Homo sapiens: one gene and its partner. The protein of the gene in region 1 purifies or fractionates together with the protein of each later gene. This does not show direct contact. Each region holds a gene or a part of one and is shown in the gene's direction. Other genes may lie near its edges. The genes, in order: CYP3A4 and UBE2G1.

Region 1 (3,825 bases):
TTCTCTGAAAGAAGAAGATATTTATTTGGGTGTAGAGTATTGCAATGGGAATCTGCATGCCTTTATAAACTATGTGCAAATTCAGGGAAGTAAAGCAAGACAAAGAGGCTCCAAGGAAAATATGAGGAGGATTTCTTATCAGTTTTGAAATAATTATCCTTCGCTACAAAGATCAGTAACAAGGGTGACGCCTCACCAAGGTTGGACAGGCAGTTGCTGGGCAGGTGTCCTTGCAGAAATATTTTTTTTAATGTTGGGATGGCCTTTGTGCAAGCTTGTAGTTTTGCGGAGTCTTTTGTGATAGTTTTGTTATCAGGCACACAAGCATGAGAATCCTCTCTTCATAGCCTTCTTTGATTTATTTGTCAGGGTTTTTACACACACACACACACACACACACACACACACACACACACACAACTAGTGACATCATTTTGGTTCTAACAACATTCACACTGGTTATTGTAAAACTTTTCGAAGGTTGTCCTACCAAGGATCCCATGTGTCACCAGGTGTCAAGTTCTACAGTCTGAACTAGGCTGGGAGCATTGTGATTACTTTTCTCCAGACTTTGGTGGCCCAGGGACTCACAGCATCATGCTCTGTCCAGTGTCTGCCTATTCCCCTCTTCTTTTTTTTTTTCCTTAGGTGCCCTTTTATTACATGTGTTGTCTCAGACCCTTCTAATATGTGCTCATAAATACATCATATCATCTCCTTCCCACATCAATTCACTTTCAATTAAAAGCCAAAACTCTTTCATTTAGACTTTGGATTTAAAGTGCTTTTGAATGAAGGGTTGAGAGATAATAGAGAAATAGATTGGCAAACCATTTATACTCTGCTGTTGTTGTTTTTTAATTTTATCTGCAAGTGTGGAACTTTTCATTCTGTTTTGTTATTAAATTTAAGCCAAGACTTTTTAATAGAAGGGTATATAAGCATTTCTTTGTCTATACCTTCCTGCTGAATTTGAAGAAATGCTGAATATTCTTAACCACTGGCGGGCTGATGGACTGTGATTTTATTTTATTTTTTATTTTTAGTTTTTTAAATTATACTTTAAGTTCTGGGTTACATGCATAGAATGTGTAGTTTTGTTACATAGGTATACACGTGCCATGGTGGTTTGCTGCACCCATCAACCTGTCACCTACATTAGGTATTTCTCCTAATGCTATCTCTCCCCTAGCCCCCCACCCAACAACAGGCCCCAGTGTGTGATGTTTCCCTCCCCGTGTCCATGTGTTCTCATTGTTCAACTCCTACTTAGGAGTGAGAACATGTGGTGTTGAGTTTTCTGATCTTGTGATAGTTTGCTGAGAATGATGGTTTCCAGCTTCATCCTTGTCCCTGCAAAGGACATGAACTCATTGTTTTTTTATGGCTGCATAGTATTCCATGGGGTATACGTGGCACATTTTCTTTATCCAGTCTGTCACTGATGGACATTTGGGTTGGTTCCAAGTCTTTGGTATTGTGAATAGTTCTGCAATAAACATATGTGTGCATGTGTCTTTATCATAGAATGATTTATGCTTTGGGTATATGCCCAGTAATGGGATTGCTGGGTCAAATGGTATTTCTAGTTCTAGATCCTTGAGGAATCACCACACTGTCTTCCACAATGGTTGAACTAATTTACACTCCCACCAACAGTGTAAAAGTGTTCCTATTTCTCCACATCCTCTCCAGCATCTGTTGTTTCCTGACTTTTTAATGATCACCATACTACCTGGCATGAGATGGTATCTCATTGTGGTTTTGATTTGCATTTCTCTAATGACCAGTGATGATGAGCATTTTTTCACATGTCTGTTGGCTGCATAGATGTCTTCTTTTGAGAAGTGTCTGTTCATATCCTTTGCCCATTTTTTGATGGGGTTGTTTGCTTTTTTTCTTGTAAATTTGTTTAAGTTCTTTGTAGATTCTGGATGTTAGCCCTTCGTCAGATGGATAGATTGCAAAAATTTTCTCCCATTCTGTAGGTTGCCTGTTTGCTCTGATGATAGTTTCTTTTGCTGTGTAGAAGCTCTTTAGTTTAATCATATCCCATTTGTCAATTTTGGCTTTTGTTGCCATTGCTTTTGGTGTTATATTTATGAAGCCTTTGCCCATGCCTGTGTCCTGAATGGTATTGCCCAGGTTTTCTTCTAGGATTTTTATGGTCCTAGGTCTTACATTTAAGTCTTTAATCCATCTTGAGTTAATTTTTGTATAAGGTGTAAGGAAGGGGTCCAGTTTCAATTTTCTGCATATGGCTAGGCAGTTTCACCAACACCATTTATTAAATAGGAAATCTTTTCCCCATTGCTTTTGTGTGTCAGGTTTGTCAAACATCAGATGGTAGTAGATGCATGGTGTTATTTCTGAGGCCTCTGTTCTGTTCCATTGATCTATATTTCTGTTTTGGTACCTGTACCATGCTGTTTTGGTTACTGTAGCCTTTTAGTATAATTTGAAGTCAGGTAGCGTGATGCCTCCAGTTTTGTTCTTTTTGCTTAGGATTGTCTTGTCTATGTGGGCTCTTTTTTGGTTCCATATGAACTTTAAAGTAGTTTTTTCCAATTCTATGAGGAAAGTCAGTGGTAGCTTGATGGAAATAGCATTGAATCTATAAATTACCTTGGGCAGTATGGCCATTTTCATGATATGGAGTCTTCCTACCCATGAGCATGGAATGTTCTTCCATTTGTTTGTGTCCTCTTTTATTTCATTGAGCAGCGGTTTGTAGTTCTCCTTGAAGAGGAGAACTTCACATCCCTTGTAAGCTGGATTCCTAGATATTTTATTCTCTTTGTAGTAATTGTGAATGGGAGTTCACTCATGATTTGGCTCTCTGTTTGTCTATTATTGGTGTGTAGGAATGCTTGTGATTTTTGTAAATTGATTTTGTATCCTGAGACTTTCCTGAAGTTGCTTATCAGCTTAAGGAGTTTTGGGGCTGAGACGATGGGGTTTCCTAAATATACAATCATGTCATCTGCAAACAGAGACAATTTGACTTCCTCTTTTCCTAATTGAATATCCATTTCTTTCTCTTGCCTGATTGCCCTATTCAGAACTTCCGACACTATGTTGAATAGGAGTGGTGAGAGAGGACATCCTTGTCTTGTGCCGGTTTTCAAAGGGAATGCTTCTAGTTTTTGCCCATTCAGTATGATATTGGCTGTGGGTTTGTCATAAATAGCTCTTACTATTTTGAGATACGTTCCATTGATACCTAGTTTATTCAGAGTTTTTAGCATGAAAGGCTGTTGAATTTTGTCAAAGGCCTTTTCTGCATCTATTGAGGTAATTATGTGGTTTTTGTCATTGGTTCTGTTTATGTGATGGATTACATTTATTGATTTGGTATTTTGAACCCAGCCTTGCATCCCAGGGATGACGCTGACTTGATCCTGGTGGATAAGCTTTTTGATGTTTTGCTGGATTTGATTTGCCAGTATTTTATTGAGGATTTTCGCATCGATATTCTTTAGGGATATTGGACTAAAATTCTCTTTTTTTGTTGTGTCTCTGTCAGGCTTTGGTATCAGGAGATACTGGCCTCATAAAATGAGTTAGGGAGGATTCCCTCCTTTTCTATTGTTCAGAAAAATTTCAGAAGGAATGATAACAGCTCCTCTTTGTATCTCTGGTAGAATTCAGCTGTGAATCCATTTGGTCCTGGACTTTTTTTGGTTGGTAGCCTATTAATAATTGCCTCAATTCAAAACCTATTATTGGTCTATTCAGAGATTCAACTTCTTCCTGGTTTAGTCTTGGGAGGGGGCATGTGTCCAGGAATTTATCTATTTCTTCTAGATTTTCTAGTTTATTTGC
Region 2 (3,825 bases), on another chromosome or scaffold:
ACTCTTTTAATGAGATCAGTTTGATTTAGGATAAATAATTTGGCATTTCTTAATTATTGAAACCTTTTTTTTAGATTTAAATTTTTGTTAGAATTTAGATGACCTCTAAGGGTGTGTCTAATGTTACCTTTCATTGGTTTGTAGGAAATAACTTTTCAGAGAAGGAAGTGTGGGCTTATGGAAACAAATCTGGCAAGGTAAACATAGTGTAGTTTTATATGGTTAATAGCATTTCAGGTACAGAAAAGTACAAATCAGAAAAAGCAAACATTTTCCAAATTTTGGTAATGAATATGAATTATTGGTATAAACAGATAAATGATAAAGAATAAAATGTAGTTTCAGGAAATAAGATATTTAAATGTTACAATAAAACATTCTAAACTTTTTCCCCCTAGTGCAAGATAGTATTGGGCTAATTTGAGTTAATCAGCAGTTTTTTTTTGTTTGTTTTTTTTTTTTTTTTGAGATGGAGCCTTGTTCTGTCGCCCAGGCTGGAGTATAGTGGCGAGATCTTGGCTCACTGCAGCCTCTGCCTCCCGGGTTCAAGTGATTCTCCTGCCTCAGCCTTCTGAGTAGCTGGGACTACAGGCACACGCCACCACCCCTGGATCATTTTTGTATTTTTAGTAGAGATGGAGTTTCACCATGTTGGCCAGGATGGTCTCCTTGGCCTGCCTTGGCCTCCCAAAGTGTTGGGATTACAGGCGTGAGCCATCGCGCCCGGTCTAATCAGAAGTTTTTATCAGTGCTGTTCCATTGATAGATTCTGGCCCTCATAGAAACTTCTGGAAGAAATACTGTACTGTATTGCTGTTGCTGTAGAGATGTATACCTCTTTTTATAAAGTTATGTTCTAGATTTGCAACAAGTTAATTTTTGTAAGCGGAAATATTTTATTTTACCTTTTATTTAACCTTTATACCCATGTCCAGTGACTTAGAAAAACTGCTATTGCTGTATCTTTGCTTTTTTTCCTTTAGCTATTCTTATTTACTCTTCTATTGGCTAGGGATATGTTAAAAATACAAAAAACAAAGACCTTAAATTTTTACCTGGCAGCTGTTTGTTGTTTGTTTGCTTTAATCTTGTAAAACAAGACTGCTTTTAAGTAAGTTTATCAAATAGGAATTTTTAAAAAAGTTCTTTATGTCAGGAGACACTTTTCCTTTTATCAAATAGGAATTTTTAAAAAAGTTCTTTATGTCAGGAGACACTTTTCCTTTGCTTTTGAATGTACATGCATTTTAATTACATTATCATATTCTTATGTAAGGTATATATTTTCTAGGGTTTCTATGTTAAGACAGAGTAATGCTAGGCAAAGAGTTCTTTTTCCTTTTTTTTTTTTAATTTTATTTTTTTGAGATGGAGTTTCGCTCTTGTTGCCCAGGCTTAAGTGCAGTGGCACGATCTCGGCTCACCGCAACTTCTTGCCACCTGGGTTCAAGCGATTCTCCCACTGCAGCCTCCCGAGTAGCTGAGATTACAGGCATGGGCCACCACACCCAGCTAATTTTGTATTTTTAATAGAGACAGGGTTTCTCTATATTAGTCAGGCTGGTCTTGAACTCCTGACCTCAGGTGATCCACCTGCTTCAGCCTCCCAAAGTGCTGGGATTACAGGCGTGAGCCACGCGCCCAGCCAAGTTCTTTTTCAACTTGATGCCAAAAGCATGAGCCATAAAAGGAAATATTAGTAAACTGGACATCATGAAAATTAAGAATTTTTACCTGATTAAAGACTGTTAAGAGGATGCAAAGACAAGCTACAAACTGGAAGAACATTTGCAAATCACATATCTGGCAACTGATTGTATCTAGAATATTTAAAGAACCCTCAACAGTTTAAAAAAAAAAAGTCAATTCAAAAAAATGGGCAAAATTAGACAGGTGTGGTGGCTCTCATCTGTAGTTTCAGCTACTAGGGAGGCTTGAATAGGAGCATCGCTTGAGATGGGGATTTTGAGGCGGCAGTGAGCTGTGACTTCACCACCGCTACACTCCAGCCTGGGCCACAGAGCAAGGCCCTGCCTAAAAAATAAGGGCAAAAGACACCAAGAAACATTTCACTGAAGAGGACATACAAATAGCAAACAAGTGACAACATGTTCAACATTATTAGACATCAGGGAAATGCAAATTGAAATCACCGTAAGATATCACTACTTACCTGTTAGAATAGTTAAAATTAAAAAAACTGTAACACTAAATGCTGCCAGGGACTTGGAGAAACTTGAACTTTTATACATTGCTGGTGGGAATGTATAATTGTATATCCACTATAGATAGAAAACAGCTTGCTTTTTTTTTTCTTTTTTAAGAGACAGGGTCTCTCTCTCTTTGTGTCTACATATATCTTTTAAAAATTTTTTATAAAAATAGAGATGGGGTCTTGCTGTGTTGCCCAGGCTGGTTTTGAACTCCTGGGCTCAAGCAGTCCTCCTGTCTTGGCCTCCCAGAATGTTGGGATTACAGGTGTGAGCCACCACATCCAGTCTATTTTTTTTGTTTTTTTTGAGACAGAGTTCCGCTCTTGTTGCCCAGGCTGGAGTGCAGTGGTGGGATCTTGGCTAGATTGTCCTTCTTTATGGGTGGTCTTGGCACCTTTGTATAAAATTCTTGAAATGACAGAATTACAGTGATGGAGAATAGTGGTGTTCAGGGATTTAGGGACATGAGGGATATGTGGTATACAGTAACATGAGGGATCTTTGTGGTGATGAACAGTCTTGTATCTTGATAGTGATTACACACATCTGCAAATGTGATAAAATTGCATAGAGTTATACACCCACCCCCCCCCCCCACACACACACACACACAACCGAGTGATGACATCTGAATACAGTAGTCCTCCCTTATCTGCATGGGATAAATACTTTCCAAGACCTCCAGGGGATGCCTGAAACCACTGATAGTCCTGAACCTTGTGCTTTCTCCTATATATGCATACCTATGATAGGATTTAATTTATGTTAGTCTAACAACAATAATAACACAGAGCAATGATAACAATATGCCGGCATTACTACTCTTGCACTCTGGGGCCATTATTAAGTAAAATAAGGGTTACTTGAAACCAGGCACTGCTAAGTGATAGGCAGGAGGGACAGTGTGAGATTTCATCATGCTACTTAGAACAACACAAAATTTACAACTTAGGAATTGTTTATTTTTTCTGTTATTTTCCATTTAATATTTTCAGACTGGGCTTGACCACAAGTAATTGAAAATGCCGATGGGGCAGGGGTGGGGGGACTATAAAGTATATGGATTGCACCACTGTCGATTTCTTGGGTTTGATATTGTGCTAGAGTTATACAGGGTGTTAGCATTTGGGAGAAACTGGGTAAAGGTTACAGGAAACCTTTCTGTACAGTTCCCCCTTGTCCTATGGGACTGTATTTCAGAATAAGAAGTTTTTAAAAAAAGTCACCTGTAACCATGCATTATTATCAATCCTTTTTCAAATAAAGAACTTAATATTTGTAGTTATAAATACAACTACATGGTTGCTCTATTAACATGTTCAAGGAACAGGAAGTTGAAATAGAGAAACCTGTAGTTTAAGACAGAAATTCCGTCTTAATTTTATTTTTTTGTTATTATTTTTGAGACAAAGTCTTGCTGTGTTGCTCAGGCTGGTCTTGAACTCCTGGACTCAAGCAATCCTCTTGGCTTGGCCTCCCAGAGTGCTGGGATTACAGGCATGAGCCACCACGCACAGCTACCATCCTAATTTTAAATAGCAGTCTTCATTTAAACTTGTGTGGTTGCTTGGAAAATGGAATAAAGGATCAGCATAAAAGTTTATTTATTGAG

What was found.
Region 2: the proteins of CYP3A4 (region 1) and UBE2G1 purify together in Homo sapiens (affinity purification with mass spectrometry, with the first as the bait; one study listed by BioGRID). This does not show direct contact.

The regions. Positions count from the first base shown.
Region 1 is NC_000007.14:99,774,071-99,777,895, reverse strand, and holds part of CYP3A4 (cytochrome P450 3A4), read left to right. Parts: intron 1-3,825.
Region 2 is NC_000017.11:4,356,493-4,360,317, reverse strand, and holds part of UBE2G1 (ubiquitin-conjugating enzyme E2 G1), read left to right. Parts: intron 1-3,825. UniProt on the Homo sapiens protein: Accepts ubiquitin from the E1 complex and catalyzes its covalent attachment to other proteins. In vitro catalyzes 'Lys-48'-, as well as 'Lys-63'-linked polyubiquitination. May be involved in degradation of muscle-specific proteins.